3 separate regions of the Homo sapiens genome follow, and all the other regions are linked to region 3. Evidence: fine-mapped expression QTL. A gene starts in region 3. Each other region holds a variant in brackets. All regions are shown on one strand. Distances are between the middles of the regions. Region 1 overlaps LIPM (lipase family member M). Region 2 overlaps LIPK (lipase family member K). Region 3 holds the start of LIPN (lipase family member N).

The links. PIP is the estimated chance that this variant, and not a neighbour inherited with it, causes the effect.
Region 1: its variant is fine-mapped to the expression of LIPN in memory regulatory T cells (Schmiedel 2018, PIP 0.95).
Region 2: its variant is fine-mapped to the expression of LIPN in sun-exposed skin (GTEx, PIP 0.99).

Annotation. Positions count from the first base shown.
Region 1 is chr10:88,806,724-88,814,912 of GRCh38, reverse strand. LIPM (lipase family member M) reads right to left here. Exons shown (of 9, transcript NM_001128215.1): 2 at 6,498-6,615; 3 at 1,618-1,816; 4 at 274-383. Among named protein-coding and RNA genes, the nearest start is that of LIPM, 8.1 kb to the right of the region's middle. The variant G/TG (reference allele first, on the strand shown) is at 4,403.
Region 2 is chr10:88,723,915-88,732,103 of GRCh38, reverse strand. LIPK (lipase family member K) reads right to left here. Exons shown (of 10, transcript NM_001080518.2): 2 at 7,456-7,571; 3 at 5,192-5,309; 4 at 923-1,121. The coding sequence starts at 7,560. It also overlaps the pseudogene KRT8P38. Among named protein-coding and RNA genes, the nearest start is that of LIPK, 22 kb to the right of the region's middle. The variant T/C (reference allele first, on the strand shown) is at 4,342.
Region 3 is chr10:88,756,282-88,764,470 of GRCh38, reverse strand. LIPN (lipase family member N) reads right to left here and starts at 4,451. Exons shown (of 10, transcript NM_001102469.2): 1 at 4,365-4,451; 2 at 2,958-3,073; 3 at 2,166-2,283; 4 at 1-61. The coding sequence starts at 3,065. RefSeq lists an enhancer at 4,097-5,296.

The DNA of each region.
Region 1 (8,189 bases), 50 kb before region 3:
TCAATGAGTTAAATAAATAATTGAATAACACGATGTTGGCTTTGAGAAAATATTTATATTGAGAGATATGCTATATCTAGACACATATAGCACAGAGATATGCTATATCTAGCACATATGTCTATATGCTAGACACATTGCTGGGGACTACATGATTCTGAAGATGAAAAGAGCAGGTCTGAAGGAAGCACAAGGTGACAGATTTCAGGGATAGCTAGTGTCGTATGCTCACATTTCTTCCGAGTATACAAACCTGCTTTTCTTTGAACCTACCCATGGTGGTGCCCTGTGAATAGCCGACATAATAGATCTTTTCCTGGCCCGTTTTCTGCAAAATAAAGTTTATCACTGCAGGAAGGTCAAACCTAGCCATCTCATCATAACTACAAGGGGAAAAGACAAAGTTATATGAAAAATTATAATCAGAAACAAACAAAAGCTCCCCCCGACACCAGGTTTACAAACAAGCCCTTGAGTTGTCAACTCTGACAGCTTGTTACCGTGTCCCTCACAACACTCAGAATGGATTTCTTTCAAACCTATGAAGCATGGGTGCCTCTGGAGTCACAGGCTGTCAGCAAACTGCTGTTTTCTCTAGATGTTATCACGTAGCAATAACTATCTTCAGTGAATATTTACTGAGCACATAACGCAACTGCTAGTGGAAGTGTCCTGTTCTACTGTTAAGCAGAACCGCACAGGGCTCTGCAGATTCATTTACAGGAATAGTTGTAAAGATGCTGAAGTGGTCCGTCTCTGATAGCCATAAAAAGTGAGTTGAACATCAATAGGTAATTTAAATAAAAGAGTTAAAAATCTTTTGTAAGAACATGAGAGGTAAGTCAAATCGATGGTCCCTAGGTGATATGGTTAGGCCTTGTGTTCCCACTCAAATCTCATCTTGAATTGTAATCCCCATAATCCCTGTAATCCCCATGTGTCAAGGGAGAGACCAGGTGGAGGTAGTTGAATCATGGGAGTGGTTTCCCCTGTGCTGTTCTCGTGATAGTGAGTTCTCATAAGATCTGATTGTTTTATAAAGGGCTCTTCCCCCTTTTGCTCAGCACTTCTTGCTGCAGCCTTGTGAAAAGGGTGCCTTGCTTCCCCTTCACCTTCTGCCATGATTGTAAGTTTCCTGAGGCCTCCCCAGCCCCGCTGAACTGTGAGTAAATTAAAACCCTTTACTTTATAAATTACTTAGTCTCGGGCAGTTCTTTACAGCAGTGTGAAAACGGACTAACACACTAGGCTTAATAGTTTCCTTTCTTTTTTTTTAATGCTGCCTGGTCTCTTTTCCTTCTGGAGTACTATTATACTATTACCCGCCCCTCCCCATGAGGAAATTGATCTACACTTCTCTCATTCCAATCTTAGTCACCTGACACCAACCACCATTCTCACCCTATTAGCTAGACCCACCTTCTACATGGGGAACTCAGCATTCCTCACTACTTCAACCAAGGAATCACTAGTTAATTAAGAAAACTGGGGGATATCATGTTAAGATAATGATGACTCAACCAAAATAAATCAACCAAATACTAGAAGCCGTAATTTTTTACCCATTTTTTTTGAAAGACAGACATGTCTACCTCTGTTCTCGAGATTATCATATACCTGAAAGCCCAGAACTCATCTTGGTCTATGGAGAGTGTCTTGTGTTTTCGAGACCAGGCGTTTCCCCTGCTGTTCCCCATCCACACGTCAAAACCAGCATCTGCCAGAATGAAGCCCAGGCTATTGTTGGGCAGGTTGGAAATCCAGTTGCTAGCACCTCCAACTAGGCCATGCTGCAGTAACACCACAGGCCTGGAACCTGCAAAAAGAGAAAATTTCAACTGTATGAAATGTTCTCTCCCTTTCTTGTTGTCCAGTAATGAATAAGAGCTTTCAAATCAAACAAACCTGTGTTCAGATCTTGATTCAGCTGCTTGCTAGCTTAGTTATCTTGGCCAATTACTTGACCTTTGGTGTGTGCCTTGATTTCCTCATCAGTAAAATAAGATTTTTGTTATGCTTTAATAAAATAGAGCACAAGAAATGGATGGCATGTTGCCCGGCAGAAAAAGAATCTATAAAGTTTAACTTCTGTTCTTTGTTTTGTGTAATTATTATCAGACTTGTCTGGGCTCTTCAGAAATATTGAAAGTGCCCCAGTAGATGGTATAGTATGATTATTAAGGTATATGTATACCACATATATATAATGGTTTAGTGATTAAGAGACCTTCATGTCAAAAGGACCCACAAGCCAGCTTGAAGGAGCTCCCACTGTTCAAATACAGAAATATTGAGCATCAAAATAATTATAGTAAATAATTATATCCCATTGAATAAATTAAGAATGTTCAAGTCCATATAGAGACCAATAAATAAATGAACAAATAAATAATTGGAAGGAAAAGCTCTTATTTACAGAATGCCAATTAGTAAATACAAAACATTGATTTACAGTACAATACCCACTAACAAATTCAGAAAGATTGAAATTATCAGTGAATGTTAAAATTAGTGAGTAAAATTTAAAGACAGAATACTACATATCCTGAAATTATCTTCCCATAACTTATTTGTTAATTACAAAAGGAAAAATACTAACTTTAGAAAAACCTGGCAGATACCACCTTAATGAAGTCATTAAAGTTATTATCAGTATTGGAACAAGCCAACATTATTTGCTTCATAATATGATGAACCAAGAAAGATATAACTTCACTTTTGGGTTATTCCTGCCAAAAACATATAACTTGAATCACACCATGAAGAAACATCAGATAAAGCAAATTAAATCCCTGTCCAAAACTCTTCAAAAATGCAAAAATCAAAAAGACAAAACCTTAGGAATTGTTTGTTTATGAAGGAGACAGACTTGGTGGCCAAATGTATAGTAAATGATCCTGGATTAGATTATGGACCAGAGGAGGGAAAACAGCTGTAAAGGACTTTGGGACAATTGACAAAATTTGGATATAGACTACGAATTAAACACTAATGTCAATCAATGTTTGTTTTCTAACTTTGATAAAGGTATTGCAGTTATAGAAGAGAATACTCTTGTTCTTAGAAAATACTCACTGAAGTACTTAGGGGCAAATAGGCATGATGTATGTCTCAAATTTACCATCAAAGGTTTTGGAAAAAGTATTAAGATACACGTAAGAGATGGGGGAGAGATAATGATAAAATAAATGGGGTAAAACTGTAAACAGTTGGTAAATCAGGGCAAAGGGCATATGGAAGTCCCTTGTACTATTCCCAGGACTTTTCCATAAATTGGAAATTATATCAAAATAAAGAATTATAAGAATATCAGTAGAGAATAGAGAAGGATGAAGGGTTTTAAGAATTCTAATATGTTCAATAAATTAAGGCATATATATTATTTTGACATTAGCAAATTTGGCTGAAAGATTAATAAGGTGCTGCCCTATTAGGAGTAAAAAATATGTCATGCCCTCAACAGGACTTGTGAGAATTAAATCAAATCATGAATGCAATATCCACACCTCAGTATTGGCTCAGAAGAAGCCTGCAGTAAAAAACAGCCTTATTGCTTTCATTATTATTGTTATAATTCTCTAAAGCAAGTGACTTTCTGAGCTTCAGTGTTCTCATTAGCAAAATGAGGACAATTGCCCACCTCACAGGGTTTTGGCAGGGGAGGGTTAAATGCGGTACTGTGCATTAAGCACTCAGCATGCTGCCCGACCTCAGATCAGATGGGTAGCTCTTGTTGTTATTGCTATAAACGGGCACCAAACACACATGCAGTCTCCCTGTAGGACAAAAGCCTTCTACACCAAACTCATCCAGCATCTTGACAGTCTTCATGAATTCCATCTGCCTCATTTTGTCTCTCAAGGGAGAGAACGTGTGGGTCACTGTGGACTGTGAGTGAAGGGCCAGGAGGAAGGAACTCAGTGTTATTTTAGATTTTCCTTGAAAATCTAATCTGGTCATTTAGTTCATCCTCTTAGTTCTCAGGGAGGTGACCTCAGCTGTGTTAACACAGGACAATCAAACCAAGGTGATCAATGCTCCCCTTGAGAGTCCGGGCATTTCCCATGGTTAAGGTCACCTTGGTTCTACTTAGTCATATAGTTTGTTCTTGTGATTCCCCTAACAAGAGGAATGGCTCATTTATATCATTTCAAACATCCCCTAGGTCTTCTATTTAATTTACACCCAGCAGGTAAGTGTGTAAGGGCTACACTTACACAGCTGTCATTTCTGAGGATGGCCCAGCCTATTTTCTCTCTTGATATTGAAGCCAACTAAGATTCTTTGATAAAGATAAAAAGGCCGCTACCACAAGCTATAAGCTTTACAGTAAACATTTTTCAGTTGTTTTCAATAAGAATTTCACTGGCTTTCTTGGTTGGTGAATTTTTTTTTTTTTTTT[G/TG]ATATGGGAGATTGCCTCTGAAGAGGCACATGCCAACAACATTGGCCACTAGAGGGAAGTATTCTGCACGGACTGGAACAAGGAGGCAGATTCCTTGAACCTCAAACACCTGGGCAATGTGTGAACAGTCTGAATCAACAGGATGTAAGAAAACAAATTCCATCCATAGAATAGGGGCTGCAGGTGACCCCCATGCTTAGTAATTGCTAAGTCACTCGACTGCTTGGAAGAACTGTGCTTTTACCACTCCCCTGAGATTCGTGGGGCTGTGTCCCCAGGCTATTCATTTATTTATACAAAATCTATAATTCATCCCGCAAATATTTATTAGCACCAGAATGTGCTCAGCACTCATTTAGTTACTGGTTCTAGCCTTGAGCAAAACAAATGATGTCTCTGCTCTCACTGAGTTTACACTCTGACTGGGGGGAGACAGACAATAGACAAACATGCAAATATCTATTATATCAGGTGATGGTAAGTGCTATATGGAAAAGTAAGCAGGGTAAGGGGCTAGAACTCAATAGGTAGCAAAGAGCTGCAACTTTGAATAGGGTGGCCAGGGAAGAACTCTGATAAAGTTGGCTGAAAGAAGGGCCAAGGCAAGCTGCATAGACATCTGATGAAACAGTGGTCCAGAGGGAGAAATTTAAGTTCAAAGACACTAAGGCAGGTGCACGCTAGACATGTATAAGGCGCAGCTGTGCAGCTAGTGAGAAAAAAAAAGGTGGTTTCAAAAAGCTACACAAGTACAAATTGGAGTAAAACAGAACCCCAACGTTTCTTTACACCAAAGCCCAATAGCATTTGTCCAGCATTTTCTGGTCCTAGTTAAGAACACGGGCTATAATGGCAGAGAGACAGATTTGATTTGAGTGCAGGTTTTACAACTCACTAGCAAGCACTAGCACAGACGTTTTGGGCAAGTTGCTTAACATATGTGAGTAGCAGTTTCTTAGGGTAATTGTGAAAATTAAATGAGACTAATACAAATAAAGCACTTATCAGTGTATCTGGCATATCAAAATAACACAAGAAATTATATTACCTATACACAAGAAAGACAATATAGTTGCTACTATAAACCTACTGCTAGAGTATTAAAAAGAATCCAGCCAAATAGAAATGAAAAATAGGCATATTTTAGTAATGAAAACAAATGTTTAAAAAATAACAATAGCTGAAAATCCCACATACAAAAGGGTGGAATTGTATGAACTATGGAGACATGTATCAAACATTTAAAATGTATGTATAGCCAGGCGCGGTGGCTCATGCCTGTAATCCCAGCACTTTGGGAGGTGGAGGCGGGTGGATCACCTGAGGTCGGGAGTTCAAGACCAGCCTGACCAACATGGAGAAACTCTGTCTCTACCAAAAATACAAAAATTAGCCAGGTGTGGTGGTGTATGCCTGTAATCCCAGCTACTTGGGAGGCTGAAGCAGGAGAATTGCTTGAACCCAGGAGGCGGAGGTTGCGGTGAGCTGAGATCCTACCACTGCACTCCAGCCTGGGCAACAAGTGCAAAACTCCACCTCAAAAATAAAATAAAATAAAATAAAATAAAATAAAATAAAATAAAATAAAATAAAATAAAATGTATGTATAGAACTTTCGTTTTTCAAAAGCCCTTAGTAAAAAGCTAGGCAACATCTTAAATATTTTAAGTGCTCTTTAGATGAGGAATACAGAGTATACAGGAGCGGGTACCAGGTGCCATAAAGAAGCTTGAATTCTTCATAATCAGAGGCTGATATGGTCTGTTCAAGGAATTGTCAGTAAATATTTTAGAATGTCTACATAGGAGGAGTTTTGGGGAATGGGTTAAGCGCTAAAATAAGTCAAGAAATGAACTTTTCTTGAAGGAGTGTTTTGAAAAGCAAACACTGTATGTTTAATTGAGATAATTGGTGGCAGTGGGGACGGACACGGTGGTGGTGATGGAGACTATGGGGGAACTGACACCATCCTTTGACCTGAACAATGGACCTCACTCTGCACTAAGAACCCAGGCTCTCTTCTACATTCAAATCACAAGGAAATCGTGACTGCAGAGAAGACTGCTGTGTTGCGGTGACATGGGGTGACCCACACCTGTCTTCTTAGGTTGCACTAGGCCTCGAGGAATCCTGTTAACAGAAAGGATATACCCATCTTCAGTTGCGACTTCATATTCCTCACAGGGATAGCCTTGATGTTGGATGATTTCACTCTATGGAAAAAGCACAATTTCTTTTAGGTTCAGTTCTCTGTGGCCATATTCTCAATGATCCAAAAGTAAGAGTAGATTCCTTGATGCTGTAAAACACAGTGAAAGTCCTTGCTTTTCCCTAGCTAATCATGTTACCTTAGAAAAATCTGCTAACCCTCTCTAGTCCTTACTTTCTTTGTCTTAATATGGAAACCGGAATAGAATTATGGTTCTCAAAGTATGGGCCTTGGGACAAAGGCATCAGCATCACTTGGACTAATCTGTTAGATATGCAAATTCCAACCAAACCTACTGAATCAGGAACTCAGAGGACTGGGCCCAGCAGTTTGTGTCTCAAGCTCTTTAGGGAATTTTGATGTACCCTAATGTTTGAGAACCACTGGATCAGAACATTGATTCCAAAACCTCGTTGTGCATCAGAATCTTCTGGGCATTGAAACATACAGAGTCTTGAGCCCACTTCAGGTTACAGATAAGATGGTTCTAAAGCAGCCAGTGGGGCACCTGTTCCAGGACAACTTATGAGCATTCCTGGGCCATGCATTTCCTAAGGTTCTTTCCAGTTCTAAAACCACAGACTCAAGAGCATTGATTCCTAACATTTTCAGGTTAAAGTTCCCTCTGTGAATTTGAGGAGAACTATAAAAATGGATATACAATGGATACAAAAACATGGTTTTGCATTCAATTTCAGGAGTTTCAGATATCTTGTTGCCTACATACGAACCCCTGGTTAAGAATCCTTACTCTATACAGTAGTTACATGTAGACATTCTCTGGAAAATTTGTAGCTGCAAATATCTTCTAAGCATCCTCACTATTCTTGCCCATTGTTATCACTCAGAGAGAAGGAGAGAACCATTTGCATCAGGGGCTGCTTTAAAAAAGAGCAAGAGAGAAGGCCAAACATCACATGCCCAGGTAGAATATAGGGCAAAAACAAAGCATAGTCATTAGGAGAAAGCTCCTGGGTCCCACTGTTTGAGTTTTAACACTGGTTCTAACACTATTACATAAACTAGCTGTATAATCTTGAGAAATTTAGTTAAACTGCTCCTATGCTTCAGTTCATGCATCTGTAAATTAGGAATTCTAATGGTTCATACTCCATGGGACTGTTGCAATAAATGCAAAAAGATAATGCACATATAACACTAACTGTAATTCCCAGCACATAGTAGGAACTCAATAAGCATTAACTACCACTATAATTAAAACTCAATTAACCGAATATTATGGAATGCAGTGTATATGTGTGCATGTATGTGTGTGAGACACCATTGTATACTTAACCTTAAAAAAATGTATAGGCCGGGCACAGTGGCTCACACCTGTAATCCCAGCACTTTGGGAGGTTGAGGTGGGTGGATCACAAGGTCAGGAGATCGAGACCATCCTGGCCAACATGGTGAAACACCATCTCTACTAAAATAATAATAAAAAAAATTAGCCGGGCGTGGTGGTGCATGCCTATAGTCCTAGCTACTTGGGAGGCTGAGGAAGAGGAATTGCTTGAATCTGGGAGGCGGAGGTTACAGTGAGCCAAGATCGCGCCACTGCACTCCAACCTGGTG
Region 2 (8,189 bases), 32 kb after region 3:
GAAGACATAAATACTTTGATTTTGTTAAATATAAGACTAGTGTCGATATATGATATTAGGCAACTATGCAACTTTTAAGGGTGTCACCTTGATTGCAAGTCAACATTTTTAAGAAACTGAAATCAGAAAAATTTGATTTGTCGAGGCCTACTGATGCTTTTCTTGCAAGGCTAGTCGTATTCACTTAATTCTATAACAGATTTACCAAGCTCCTCTGAAAAGAGCAATTACCTGGAATGCTTATCTAAAGGAGAGAATAATAAAGCAAACAGATTTGCAGACCTCAGCCCAGACTGACTGAATCAGAATTTCCTGGGAAGAGACCCAGTAATCTGCATATTTAACAATGACCTCAGTTACTTCTGATCCTATGTATAGTTTAAGAAATACTTACCTAGGGAATTTTCTAGTCATTTGCAAGGGTGCAATGGACTATGGCATAGAATTAGGAAATCCCAGTGGTTTCCAGAAAGAAGGCAGGCAACGAGGCCAAGGAACACAGGATTTTCATGACCTCCAAGGCATGGTTCTTAGCTCCTATGCCAGTGCATCAGTTTGCTCCTGTGACCGGGTAGGCGTGGCTTCTGAAGTAGACAGCACCCTCAGGCGCTGCTGCTGGCAGCACTGTTGCTTAGCTATTCTGTAATCAGGCTTTCTTCTTACTTCCCCCAGAACATACACACACACACTCACTCACACGCAGACACCAGGACGGAGGCAGGAGTTCTAAAACAGCCATGCAATAATAATGGCAGTTCTTTAGAGCCTGTGAAGAAAGTTTGGGTAGAGAAAGAAAGGTTTGTTTCCTTCTTGTGGATTCCATTGGGTGCATTTGGACACAAAACAGGAAAAAAATCACTAGGTGTTCATACATATGCATGAGGAAAGTACACATTTTATTCATTAATAGGTTTCTCTTTACCTGAAGGCCCAGTATTCCGGTGATTTCGGTGACAATTTAAGGTGTTTTCTGGACCAAGTGTTTCCTCGGCTGTTCCCCAACCACACGTCATAACCACTATCTGCCAGAAGGAAAGCCAAACTGTTGTTGGGCAGGTTGCAAATCCAGTTACTGGCAGATGCAATTAAGCCATGCTGCAAATACACAGCAGGCTTTGGAGCTGCAAAACACAGGCAACAAGAATTTCATATTTGAACTTTCTCAGTGTCTACAAGAAAAATCTCATTCCTGAATTTCTGTAGTATAAAAGAAAGGTTAAGAGATAAAATTTGATGCCAGGCAAACCTGGGATCTAGTCCCTTCTGAGCTACTTACTTGGGTAAGTTATTTAAGTTCTCTGTCTTGTTTTCTCATTTGTAAGGGATTATATACAATGTATTGTATTATGTAAGTGTGGAAGTTAGTTTGCCCTAGTTCAAAATCCCTTCGATACGCATGAACTCCTTTGTGCCTCAGTTAACCTATCTGTATAATGGGAAATAATAATAAATGCTATCTCCTAGGGTATTTATAAGAATTCGATGAGAACTAAAACATGTAAAAGGCTGTCTGGTTGCCAGGCGCGGTGGCTCACGCCTATAATCTCAGCACTTTGGGAGCTGAGGCGGGCAGATCACGAGGTCAGGAGATCGAGGCCATCCTGGCTAACACAGTGAAACCCCATCTCTACTAAAAAATACAAAAAAACTAGCCGGGCATGGTGGCGGGCGTTGTAGTCCCAGCTACTCGGGAGGCTGAGGCAGGAAAATGGCGTGAACCCGGGAGGCGGAGCTTGCAGTGAGCCGAGATCGCCACACTGCACTCCAGCCTGGGCGACAGAGCAAGACTCCGTCTCAAAACAAAATAAAACAAAACAAAAAAAAGCTGTCTGGCACAGTAAATATATATTAGCTCTATTACTGTTACTTATATTAATAGCATTATATTTTTCAAGATTCATCTGATTAAAAACTTAAATTTTTTTCAAAATAATAAAAACAATAATTAAAATGCCATTTGTTGAATGCTCATTGAATGTCAAGCACTATGCTAAGTTTTATAGGCACTGCTTCATTTCATTTGAATTGTTAGAAAGCAAAAAACAAGGTTGTAAGTAGAAATTTACAGTTTAAAATTGTTAATATGATACAAAAATCCTATTCCCAATGTAAAATAGGAACATTTCAACTAAAAAAGAGAAAGGAAAAAGAAAGAAGTGAGAAAGTGTGGAAAAAGAGAGAAGAGAGGGAAGAAGTGACTAGACTTTTCCTGTGCTTTATAAGTGGTTTGTGATGCTGTGTTGTTATCTCAGGACTCTACCTCAGGTCACTTTTGGAACTAGAGTGGCTTCCTGAGAGTGAGTAAGTTGTACTCTCAGAGAGCCTTCAGCCATCGGGACCAAGGAACTAAGAGTCTATGTCCATTTTTCCACCATTTGGAATAGAGGGAAAGAAGAGGTGTTACTAACTCTGCCAAAGTTAAGTACCATTAAATAGTCAAGTACCATCAGGCCTCTTTGATCTGAGTCTGAGACAAATCACAGGGATCTCAGATTAGAAAAAGAGTTTCTCATTGTACAGCTTTTTGTCTCATGAATTTTGGCAGCTACGTGATAGAAATGACAAGAGAAAAGTTTGGAGAGACTTAAAAGTTCTCTTGAGTATTTACAAAGTTATTTGTAATTATGGAGTTATTTTGGGAAATAATTGGCTCTGTAAAGCCAGCAACACCATTATATCTTCCTCTCTTTTTAGAAATCTAGAGTTTTTCTTTAAATAAATAGTCTTTCTGATATTGAGAAGTTTTGTTATTCGACATGTCAAAGTATAAAATGAACTAAGAAGAGAGAGAAGAAAGCAAGAGCAAATAGTTTCTGGGAAATGAATTGCTCTTCCCCCGCCCCCCCCCCCCAACAGATAGCCACCTGCATTGCGGGGAGCTAGAATTGGCTCTTTAATGAAGTTTAAGCACAGAACTGATAGGAACTAATAGGGTCTTTTTTGCAGAGATTCCTGAGGATACCTGAGGCTCTGTTTCAGAAAAAAAAAATAGACTTGTTTTTTCAGCTGGAGGCAAGGGCAAGAGGTGTACCCTAGGCAGCAAACTATCCCTGTAGGGTGGGCTGAGAACTAGGGCTGAGCGTCAGATGGGTCTCCAGTTGCCCATGCTCCCCTGCACAGCTGCCTCCCCAGCAGGATGTGGGACAGCCACAGGAAGGGTAAGCTAAGAAGTGCTGCCGTGGACATTCACTTGGGCAGGACATCAGAGGACTCGGATACCAGCTTCCCATTGCAGGGGTCAATCTTCTTCACAACTATGGCCCTGCAGGAGCTGGTGCGGCTGAAAGAGCCGGAGTCCCCGCCACAGTCAAAGCTGGACTGGAAGAAGTCCAGGCCATAGCTGAGGGCAGAGCTTGTGAGGCCGAGCCCAGCCCACCTGGGTAGCCACTGCTTGTCTTCCTATGCATACACCTGCTCTGCGTCCCAGACTCCAGCGGGCTCTCCTCGCCCTCCAGCAGCTTCCTGTAGGTGGCGCTCTCGATGCCCAAGGCCAGCTTGACATTCATCAGCTCCAGGTTCCGGTGAAGCTACGGCGCCCTCTCCTGTTTGGTCCGCTATAGGGCGGCCTCCAGCTCTGCAGGCTCAGCGTTGAGTCCTTAATGGCGGACTCCCCACGCTGCTCTGCGTTCTCTGGCCTTTGAGGCCTTCAGTCTCATGGTGGAGCCGGCTGATGTTTCGGTTCACCTGGAAGATCCTCTTCCTGCGACACAGCTCATTCTCAGCCTTCCCAGCCAAGGCCTGCAGCACCTCATACTCGACCTGGTGGTGCATGCTCTCGGCCTTGGCCCAGCTGCGGCTGGCGATCTCCTGGTACTGGGCGGAGACGTCGAGATGATGCCATCCATGTCCAGGACTCGGCTGTTGTCCAAGGATAGGACCAGAGATGTGGCCGAGATCTGGGACTGCAGCTCACGGATCTTCTCTTCTCCTGGGGCAGCCCTTTTAGGCGAGACTACTTATTCTACGTTGTTCATGTAAGCTTTAACCACATCCTTCTTGATGAGGAAAATTCATTCTCCATCTCTATATGCTTGTTGATCTCATCCTGGTACTTACTCTTGAAGTCCTCCACCAGCCCCTGCATGTTGTCAAGCTCCACCTCCACCTTCAGCTTCTGGTCCCATGTGTCCAGCTGCCGCAGAAAGTTGTTGATGCAGCTCTCCATGTTGTCCACGTTCTCCCAGCTGTCTTCTGCTGCTGCAGGCTCCACATGGTCTCCAGCATCTTGTTCTGCTGCTCCAGGAACCACACTTTGTCAATGAAGGAGGCAAACTTGTTCAGGGTCTTGATCTGCTTCTTCTCCTGGGTGTTCACAGCATGGATGTTGGGATCCACCTCCAC[T/C]TTTAGGGAGCTCAGCAGACTCTGGGTCACAGTGAAAATTGTGATGCCTCCCATATCACCAGCCCCAGCATAGACCTCACCCAGACCCATGCTGGTGCCCAGGCCACCCAGAAAGCTGCTACCTACCTGGAAGAAGCTTGAGGTTCTGATACAAGCACTGGGTATGCTCCTGTACCAACAGCTGCTGAAGGCGGAGTTCTGGGTCACCCTGATGGACATGGTGGAGGCTGGAGTGAAGGTAGGTAGGCTAAACTAGATGGTGATTTGACAAGCTGAGATGCTGTTGCTAGGTGGGAGCTAATAGGGTAATATTTACTTTAAACCATGAAATCACACAGACTTGGGTCCAGAACTGACTACAAATAGTTTAATACCAGTGAGGAGGCATTGTAGTAGTTGAAGACATTATATCCAAACCTGGATTTGAAAGATTATTGAAGCTGAAAGTTGTCAGATTAGGGAGAAATTTAGAAGGCAAAATTGATAGATGGCGATGATAGGTTGCATGTAGAAGGTGAGGGAGAGTTGGTATCAAGAATAACCCCTAGATTTCTGATTTTCAAAACGGGACAGAGGTATCACTAGGGTAAGAACACGATGTGTTTTTGTGTTTGCTTGGTAGGAAGACAAAGTCATGAAGAAAAGGAGTGACCAGATAAACAGTGTATGTAAAAGTGACTTAAAACTTCAAAGTTACACAAATTAAACAGAGAGATGGGGGGCGATAATTTTTCTCCTTTAATGGAAAGGACTGTTAAGAATTTCAGAACAAAAACTGCTTGACTTCTCCCAGGACATCTAAGTACCTCTGCTTTAAGTATTTTTCCTTTCATAACAAAATAAATAATACCTGTCCTCCCTGGGCATCCTCTTCCATGTGGAATCCTATAAATTCCAAGGATATAACCATCTTTTGTTGTAACATCATACTCTTCATAAGGATAACCCCAGTAAGAAATAATCTGGCTCTAAAAAGAGGAAAGGAAATATATACCTTCATGTTATAATCTCTTAATTTTTACACATGAATTACAACATAGTACTTTATTTGTCTGTTTGTTTGTTTGTTTGAGACGGGTCTCACTGTGTTCCCTGGGCTGGAGTGCAGTGGTGTGATCTTGGCTCACTGCAGCCTTCGCCTCCTCGGCTCAAGCTATCCTCCCACCTCAGTCTTCCAAGTAGCTGGAACTAAAGGCACCTGTCCCAATGGCCAGCTACATTTTTTGTATGTTTTTGTAGAGATGGGGTTTCACCATGTTGCCCAGGCTGGTCTTAAACTCCTCAGCTCAAGGCATTCGTTCCCCTGCCTTAGCCTCCCAAAGTGCTAGGATTATAGGTGTGAGCCTCCCTGCCTGGCCACAATGTAGTACTTTAAATTGCACCTACTGTTTATCACTCTATGTGCCGTGACGGCATGTAATATTCCTATGAGGATAATTTAAGAGGGATTTCTAGGAGTTACATAAAGAGGCATAGGTAAGTCTGGGTGGGGTGACCCTACATTCTTGTTTGCTCAGGACACTCTGGTTTTGCCTGCTGGCCTGGTATTATTAAAGCACCCTAGTTTGCTTTGATGAAAATTATATGGTCATCTAATGAGGGAAACCACAGGGAATTGTGGAGTACCCTGTGGCTAATAACAAGTGATCTATTACCAAACAGACTTGAAAGAAGAGGGGAGGAAGCAGTTACTGGAAGCCCGAAGGAGAAAGTTAAGCTGAGATAACCAAATTGAGGAAGACAGCTTGTCTAAGTTGACTTCACAGGGAGGAAGCCAGGGCAATAAAAAATGAAACCTTACTGGCCTATTTCTTTCCATCTCCTGCTCACCATTTCCATTGGCTGAATTGAACTGAAAACCAAAAGTCAAGGGAGCTTGTTGACCTGTCCTTACAGTTCAGCCTCTTGGGCAGAGAGAAAGGTGTTAAAGAACAGAGAGTGAGCCTAGAGGGGTCAGAAAAGATACCCCACCTGCAGATATACAAAGAAGAGGGGAATTAGTGATTACTGGTATCTTCTGCGTAGAGGTTTACATTCCTTTTCTCATTAAACTTATAAGAGGCCTTTGAGATGGAATTGTACCATTTACAGTTGAGAGAACTTATGTTCAGGTAGATTAACAATTTATCCAAGATTATATACCAGGAAGAGATAAAAAGATTAATGCTAAAGTAAGTTTAACTCCAAAGCTTATGCCTTAATCAAAGGATTATGCATTTTCCCAAGTCAGACACAGAGATGCATGTATAAATTGTGGGCTACACAGAGCAATGGTGAAGAGCCCAGGCTCTGGAGACAGACTGTGACATTGTGAGGATTATATGTAATATGTGTAGAATAATGCCTAACATAAATGCTTTATAGATGATTGTTCTTATCATTATAGAAGGATTAAAAGCTAAAAATCCCTCATGCTAGAGAGAGAAAAATTATGTGAGTTCAACAGTTTGGTAGGAGATCAAGGGTACTTGCTGGATACTTTGGAGAGAGGAACAAGAAGAGATACTAATGAAAAAAAACTTTGGCAGTTTCGTTCTTTTTATGGTTCTGATACAACTTGCGTATGGTACAGGACAGCAATTGTGCGCCGTTTATATAGGAGAATGGAGTATATTATCTGAATGAATTCTGTAGTAGATATTTGTCATTTGGCCTTTTTTTCTTTGCCTAACACTATTCCATTCCACTTCTGATATGAATTCCTGAATGTTAAAATACTTTGGTAATAAACAACAGAAACCAACACTGGCTTATGAAACCAAAAAAGCATATTGGGATAGCTCACAAAATCAAAGAAACTGCTCTATCAAAAATCTCGGGGAAAACTCAAAGGTACTCTATAGAGATCATCTGTATTAAGTCATGAAACTTCTCTTTAGGAAGCCACCACTGGATGGTAGTTCAAACCACCAGGAGATGGACTATTACTGCCCCAACTTGGGTCAGATCTTTTAATTCTTGGATTAGTTAGCCATATCAAGAAACAGGAGAGGAAGCACAGACTTAGTCACTGGAGGAATTGCTGAAAACTAAGAAGGCACACCAGTTGTATCTAAAATGCTGAAATATGAATAATTCCTTATTTTAGCATTTTTTTCTGAATAAATGACTTACAATATTCATATTAGCTTCAGGGTTTGCATTGTTTCCTTTCTTGTCATAACCATACATAGATCCAAGAAGAAGCATCCAGCATGCTGCTGCTAAAAGCTGCCACATTTGGGATCTGCCTAGGAAAGGAAATTTAATATATTTGTCATCAAAGATAAATTCTACGAAGTGAAATTTGGTGTAATCTTTTTATAACACTGCTATGAGAGAGAGCAGAAACATACTTCTAGGCTGTGCTTTAACCAGTAGAATACTGAATTATACAACATTCATTCCATGAAAAATCTAAAATGACTTTTTAGTAAGAAAAGAAAAGGCACAAGGAAAGAAGAAAAGAGGGAATGAATGGAAAGGAACAGAGAAACCAATCAATCAAGTTTCCAGTAGATAACTGGACAAAAGAGGGAATAGATAATGTGTAGAAAAGAAATATAATGGCCAATAAATTAATCAAAGCACATTTGGTATCTCTAGTTACTAGATTGGTTGGTACTTTTTTCTGATGGTAGAGTTAATCATTGGCAAAACCTTTATGAAAAAAATTTGTTAACATGTCTTGTAAATTTAAAAGTATTCATAACCTTCACTCAGTAATTTTGTTTTCAGGAATCTATCTAAAAGAAAAATGACGTGTATATAAACACTGGGTATAAAATTATTTCTTATTATATATCTTAAGACAGTAAAATTTCCCAAAGTAAGAGACTGTTGACCTAAATTATGGGTGAGAAAAAATG
Region 3 (8,189 bases):
TCAAGCCAGTAGGCATTGTCTGCAAACAGGGCATGCTGCATATACACAACTGGCCGGGGACCTGGTGGGGGAAAGGGTAAGATGAGAGAGGGAGAAAGAGAAAGAGAGAGAGAGAAAGAGTGAGAGTAATTTATGTTAAATAGAGCATGTCGGAAACATCACAGACACACACACATACACACATGGTAAAACAAAAACTGTTTTCACTTTTCCCTTGTCAATAGTATAGAGCATTATAATCAGGTAACTTCAGTTTCTTGAGCACATATTTTTGTACCTGGTGCTATGTTGACGTATTTATATGTATTAGCTTACTAAATTCTTGCAACAACTCTATAAACTAGCTGCTATTTTGAGAAACCTCATTTTGTAGATATGGAAACAAAACTTTATGTAGTTAAGTAACTTTCCCAGAGGGCCACCCAGATAAGAAGGCCAGAGCAGGGACTCAAACCCAGTTCTTTTTATGTCAAAGTCTGTCCTGATAACTACTGTGCTCTATGTATTTGTATATACAAATTTCCTGGGTGTGGTTTACAAAGACACAAAATTTATCATGCTTACTCAAGTCCTATAGCTCTTCCAGGGAGGAAGAGGAGGTGAGTGTAAATGGACACTGATTAGTTCCTCACCAAATTTCTATTCAAATCCCCATCCTCTGTCCAGTGGAGAGCATTTAAAAACTACAATAATATGCTCAGCTCAGTGTCCCTCTGCCAACTTCCAGATTTCTGAGGGAGAGAGAGCATTCAGGGAGATCCAAAGAACCAGGGTGGAAGGTCAAGTAAGGCACTATAATTTAATGACTAAGAGCACAGGCTCTGGAGCCAGCATGCCTGGGCTTAAATTCTGGTCTGTCAGCTTGCTATTTGTGGACTTTAGGCCTCTTAACATAACCGGTTGTGCCTTAATTTCATCATTTGTGAAATGGTGACTATTAGTGGTACCCATCTCATATTGTTGATGAGAAGTTTAACTGATATAAAGTATTTAGAACATTACATCTAATGAATGATCTTTAATTCTAAATCTTTCCAAAATTATCTCTCCTTAAGCCAAATCTTTCCCATAAAAGTTTTCTCCTTTTATATTTCACAGCTCCTTCACACATGTGCCTGGGATTGCCAGATTTAGCAAAAAATAAAAACAAAAGTAAGCAAAAAGTTCCAGGATGCTCTACAAAATTTTATAAATAGTGATAATAGTGAATAAATAATGACTTTTTAGTATTATCTTAAAATGAGACTTATACAAAATTATTTGTTGTTTATCTGACCTTCAAATTTAACTGGGTGTTTCATATTTTAACTAGTAAAACTACTCATATCTCACTCTCATTTTTCATTCTGAAACTGGAGATAAAAGAGGGAGAGAATGTCAAACATGACCTCAGCTGCTCCTTAATATGTGTGGTGGGAAAAAAGATGCAAAATGAACACGGTAAGCAGCTGCCAATAAATTATTTGCTATTGAACCATTGCAGATATTTTGGTTATTCTTATCATTTCTACTTCAGAGGATTTGTAGTTAAATTTTCCCTTTTAAGGAGTATCATTCCCCTGCTATGGCATGGCTGGCTCCTCATTCTAGAATTCAAGCCTTATTGACACCATACTCTTTCATTCTATGAACCGTCTGTCCCTTAGATCAAAGTGTATGTGGATGTTAAGGTTTTCAGTCCTGGAAAACTTTTCAGAAATGCGTTGTCATTTAACTAGATTGTTTTTTATCCTGCAGAGGGAGGCCCCTTAATTTTAGTGGGAGCAGGAGAGGTTCTTCTTGGGTGCCCCAGAGTCAATTTCATACAACCTAGAAAATCTCCTTCTGACAATGAGAGGATCCATTTTCCTGGGACAAAGCAATTTTCCACATGATAAATCAGTAATGAGGTGACAAAATGCAGGCTCTGCCTTTCTGTTTACACCCTAACAAGTACCTCTGGTTGCAGTTAGCAAGATCAGTCTTGCTGTTTGTATTTTTAGGTTCCTGTCTGTCTTCAGAGAATTATCAGGCAAAGAGTGAGCCTCCCTGATAACTATTTAAAGACTAATCCAATAATTCAAACCAATTTTGATAAACTCTGTTGATGCATATCTAGCATTAAATTCCTCCTGAGAAGCAGGAGGTCAATGCAGTCCCCTTTTCAGGAGAGACATATCTTGTACCTGTGCTCCTAGCATGTGTTCGCCCATAAGGAATTCTGTTGACAAGGAGTATATACCCATCTTCAGTGGTGACTTCATACTCTTCACTGGGGTAGCCATTGTAGATGATGATTTCACTCTGCCCAGTAAAAATACAGTCGTTAGTGGAACTTCTCCAAAGGATATAAAAAGGAATCAAAACAAACCATCTGTTGTGTGCTTATTAGGGTGAATTATCTGAAATTTGTAGCACCAGGTAACTGTAAAATTAATAAATAAAGTCTTAATACAAAATAAGTAGAATTTTAAAAAATATCTACTATTGGCTAATATTTTGGGGGGTTGGGGGAAAATTTAGCATTGACCCATTCTTTCTGACAAAGCTATATTATCAAGTCAATTGTCTTTTGAGACCCCTCTTGCTTTAAAAGTAATAGAACTATAGATCAATAGAAGGCAATCATGTACATCAACAAATAGCTTGATATTCTTAAAACATAAATTCAAAAGAGGAGGTTCTATCTATAGATAGATAGATAGATAGATAAATAGATAGATAGATACATAGATAGATAGATAGATAGATAGATAGATAGATAGATAGATAGCACAATAGCACAATTTGGTTTTCATTACCGGACAGTATTTGTTTTTCAGACAAAGATCTAACTAGCTTGACTCTTGCAGAGGTTAAAAACCATCTACATTTTATCTGTTTTATCAGAGATTTTCTGTTACAACAGGACCTTTCGTAACCTCATACTCCATTAGTCCTGCTTTATTTGATGTTCTTCACAGTTTTCCATGACTTACAGTATTCATCCACACCTCAGGATTCACTTCATTTTCCAAATCAAGGAATCCACCAGCATTTAAAGTTCCACAGATCAAACAAGTTGTTGTTAAAAGCAGCCACATCATAGAAATGCCTGGCATAAAACATTTAATATTCACAGATTAATTTTAACTATCAATGTTGATTAATGAAATAAAATGATTAGTGAAATTATTAATGATTAATGAAAACTTGAATAACACCGAAGGCAGATAATGTATAAAAAGGAATAAATACAGTGAACTAACTTGGAGCACTATTAATCTATTTTTTCATGTAGAAGTTGTCTTGATTATAATCCAGTTCCTAAAATGAAATAAATTTAATCAAGTATGGAGGCATTTTTGGTCTTATTTTAATCAAGGTTGAATTGCTTTAAGTCTTTGTTTGCCTACAATTTGACAAAATATCTAAAGATTCAGAGGACAGGTTTTCATACCATGGCCAAGTAAAAAGTGGAGGTATCCCCTAGTTAAGCCCAGTATCCCACAAAGTAAACAAGAAAAATGGATCAATAAAACTTTAACCAAACACAAAAGCTTATGATTAGTTTCTAGTGATGTGATTATTTCTCACGTGGCACCCAAAGGCAAATTTTGCGTATTTCAATGTGCAGTCTCACTTCCTTGCCATGGTTTAAAAGTATGTCTATTCAAAGGTAGACCAACACTATAACACTAAACAGCGTGCTCATCATATAAGTGCTACAGTCAAATGGTCTAAATTTGAAATCCAGCCTCACCACAGAAGAAGATGTCTAACCTCAGGCAAGTGTTTTAGTAGCTTTGTCTCTTGGTTTCCTTGTTAGTAAAATTAGGACAATAATGTAACCTATCTCATAGGGTTATAGTGAGGATTAAGTCATATATAACATTTAGTGCAGTGTAAGTTCTTAATAAATGCTTTCACTATTTTTCTTATAAAAGTGAGCAAGAGATAAATATTACAGATAATTCACTATAACAAAGTAATATTTAACTTCTAGAAATGCAGAGTTTACTTCTGAAGCTAAATAGCTTTGCATACATTAGCTATCTGGTTGAAGATCATCTTATATCTGCAAATATTATGAAACTTTTCAAATTGTATGAAACTAATAATAAGCTACTGAGTCCCCTTATGGCAGGCATTACTCTAAATAGTTCACGTATGTTATTTAAGCTCTGAAAATCTCCCTAATTTTGGTACTATTATTATCCTCATTTTATCAATTAAAAAAACAAAGGCTTAGAGAGATTTAAGACCTGCTCAAGGTCACAGAGCCAAGAGGTGAGAGATCTAGGATGGACACTCAGGCAGCCTCACTGCAGAGCTCTTGCACCTGACTGCCAGTGCAACTGGCACCTTCCAACCTGCCTCCTGGTTATGATAGATCTTCATCTTACCTAGTTAGATGAGCTTCACCTGCTCACAAGGACTCCTTATTGATGAGGAACTTCTGAACTTTTGCTTTTGACATCAGGCTGAAGAGTAAGAGATGATTACAGTGACAGTTAGAAGCTAGAGAGATGAGAAACAGGAAGCTTGTGAAAAGGAGGAAGCTTTAGACTGAGACACACACCCAAGGCGTGTCCCTGACACACCAAAGGCCATGATGCACTTGCAGGTTGGGAAATAGTGGTCTACATGATGCAAAATAACCAGTTTGACGGAATCCTTCATGTTTCCACTGAGTATCTGTCATTGTTGGGAAGACTTAGCAACATTTTCAAACCAGTGTGTCAAACAGGGAAGTAGAACATACTCAAGATCTTAATGGACAATCAGAGACAATAGTATCTCCCTTCCCCATTTGATCCTTCATGAGGATCAAACGGAGTAACATATATCAAGGAACTAGTGCCAACCATGCAGTGCGTAGGGATGTGCGTGACTGTAACTCATTTGAGAAGATGAGGCAACCCTGACTCCTAAATCCTGAAACCAGAAGGAATTTGGAACTAGCAGTATGGCAGAGGAAACTAATTCACATGCCAAAGGGATTTGGGTTGCTGTCAACTTTGGCACAGTAACCTTTGTTTACACCAGTGGTTAAAGGCAGAAATGGAGGCCAAATAACGACAATTTACCTCTAAGCCCCACATGAGATACCAGATAATGGAGGCACACGTGCCTCAGTTTTCTGCTTCACTTTGTATGCCTGTGGAGCTTAAGCCGTAACTGAATCTCTTTCATCTCCCAGCATGAAGAAGGGTAGGGAAAACTAAGTTGCTACCCAGCATAATATAGAAGTTTCAGTTCTATTAGTTTGGATTTATCCTCAAATCCTTTCAAAAAAAATGATATTTTGTGTTGTCCAAATCCTAAGATCTGTTTTAGTGGAGTGGGAAATTTCATGCCAATTAAACAAATGTGGAGTAAAAGGAAGTGTTCAGCTAGTCAGAACAGGGAAAAGTTATGTACCACTCCTTAATCATTTAGTCTTGATGAAAGACTCAAGCATGTTTTGCCCTGATTGATAGTATGATGGCATAGGTATGTGGATTTTCCTGGAATTTCTCATGGTTTTTAACTTCAAAAACAATCCTTTCTAACAAAACTTTATTGGACTCTTTAGAAAGTTCTAGAAGTGCTATGTTATTATTATTAATATTGATTTGTTGCCTTGACTTAATATGGAAATAGCACAAATATAGTTCAATTTCACAGATCTTTACAGATTGTAGGCTAGCTCAAATCTTAAAAGAGTTTCTACATCATTGACTTATATTCCCTCCTCAACTTCGAGTTATTTGAATAATCTGGACAATTCCTGTAATTCTTTTGTTTGTGCAGAAACAAAGTAATGTCAAAGAAATAAAGCTGAAACTTTCTCACAATGCTCCATCACTCTTCCTATATAAGCTTGCTATTTTAATAAGTATTTAATATATTACTGAGTATTATATATTTTTCTGTATTATATATTGTTCTACAATATTTAATAATATATTCTGTAATATATATTTTCTATATAATAAAAGTATATAGAAAATATATAATGTTACAATATTTCTATTATATATTTCAATACTCATACTGAAATTAATTTAAATGAATACATTAAAACTTGTTCCTTGGCCCTGTGGGATACAAAATGGTAGCCCCTACTCTCTAGAAGCTCAAATTTTTCCTTTTTTTTTTTTTTAATAAAATTAGATGATAGTGGAGCTAGAAAGGGGTAACCTTTCAGAAGGCCTGTGGTATTTTTGAAATCTCAGTCCAAGAATCATATTACGGCCTAAGCTAACTGCTTAATGATGGTTACTCATTCAATTGTGAAGATGGTGGAACACACATGGTTGAACATAGATCCTTGACTTTGGGATCTACCTGTAAAAATGATTATTATTTTTCTTCCAATGTCCTATTCAAAACACATTTCCTATTACAGTGTGGTTATCTTTTTGTTTGTTGGATTGCTTCTTTCTCCTCAAAGGCTGCTTTTTCAAATTTTCTCTTGAAAATAACTCAAAGTTAAAAAGGTTAGGCCATAACCAGCAAAATGGAAACTAGTGAGAATTTTGAAAAATAAATAATTTGAACCTCACACTTTTGAGACAAATTTCACCCTACAGTAAAAAGACTGTGCATGAACAAGAACCTGGATTTTGTCTCTTGCTCACTAGATAATTTATCTAATTTATTTTGCATCCTAAAATTCAAACAGTGCTCAATAGAACCATAAGTGTCCATAAGTCTATATGTGTGTGTGTAAAATTATTAATTAGCACACTTTTGCTTAAGAGAAAATACTTTATATTTTAAAATTTCATCTCTTTACTCAAAGCGAAGTTGGGAATGTTCATAATTACTACAAGAAACAGTGTTGTTTTTGAGATTACATATTAGCGTAGAACATGCTTTCTTTTAGTGTTAGTGAAAATGAATCTCTGTTTCAGTGACATCTATACTACATCCATCTTTAAAAACAATAATGGCTATAATAGAAGAGAGAAGTGACAAAAAGATCTATCAATCATAGTTAACTAAAATATTAAAGATTTTTGAAGAGGCCATAATAAGTTTATTGAACACACATCCATCTCAACTCAAAATGTTCAAAGGAAAGATCACTTACATTTAAAGAGAAATTATTACCAAGAGTGCCGGCAGCTGTCCTTGATAACGTCCATGTTCCGGAGTGACACGATCAGGACCATCCGTGTTTGTGACAAAGGTCAAATCCTTGTGAGAATGAAGAGGAAGGGCCATACCATTGAATATGAGGAAAATTATATCATTTTCCTGCCCCAGGCGGATCTACCTTCCTCGCTTCCTGCTTAATGTGCAGCATGTATGTGTGGTATTCTCTAGAGCTCATTTTGTATTTGAATTTCTGTAGGAGGTATATTCAAATGTAGATTCTTTAAAAAAAAAAAGACACAGGACACTTAGCTAGACATTCAAGTTGGATCTAGTTTTAATTTGTCTCATCTAATTTGCAAGAGTAAATAAATGGTGATTGGAATGTGCAAAGAGGTAACATTGTTGTTTTGATATATGCTCCTGTTTTTTTTTCCTGAGTTAATGTTCTATTTTGAGTTACTATTAAATCACCTTCAAATCTCACCAGCACCCCTGAAAATAGATAAATTGTTTTTAGAGTTTCTTAATTTCATTCCTCCTCTAATCACCATCATCATCAAAAATTTTTGCGGACTGAGTGAATGAGTGATTGAATAGATGATTCTGGAAGTCCAGAGAATGCAGCTTAGTTACTGAAGAATACTAATAATGTTATTATAAATAATAATAGTGAATTATTTATTATTTATTAAGTACATAGTATGTGTCAGGTATTTTACTTTGATATGCTACCAACTTGGCTGTAAATTCCACTGGCTTTCTTTGCTGTTACAAAGGAAATTTTTCTTAACATTACCTACTAAATTTAATAGAAAACAGGAAATTCACGGGAAAAATTCAATCTTGTCCTGTTTTTTAACTAAATTGGAAGAGATACATTGCTATTTACAGATTGCAAACCACACGAATACAATTTAAAAATTGCTACCTGATAGCATTTTTTCTCTTTTTCAGCCTCCAAATTATTCTTAAACCTAGTAACCACTATAGCACAATCTGATATCTTTTACACAGTCTGTATTTTTTCATTTTTCCATACATTTAAAAAATCTTATAAATGCAGAGATATTCCATTTTCCTAGAAATAACCAGAATTTTCAGGGGATAGTTACCTTACTCTTTTCACTATCTGAGCATGGTCC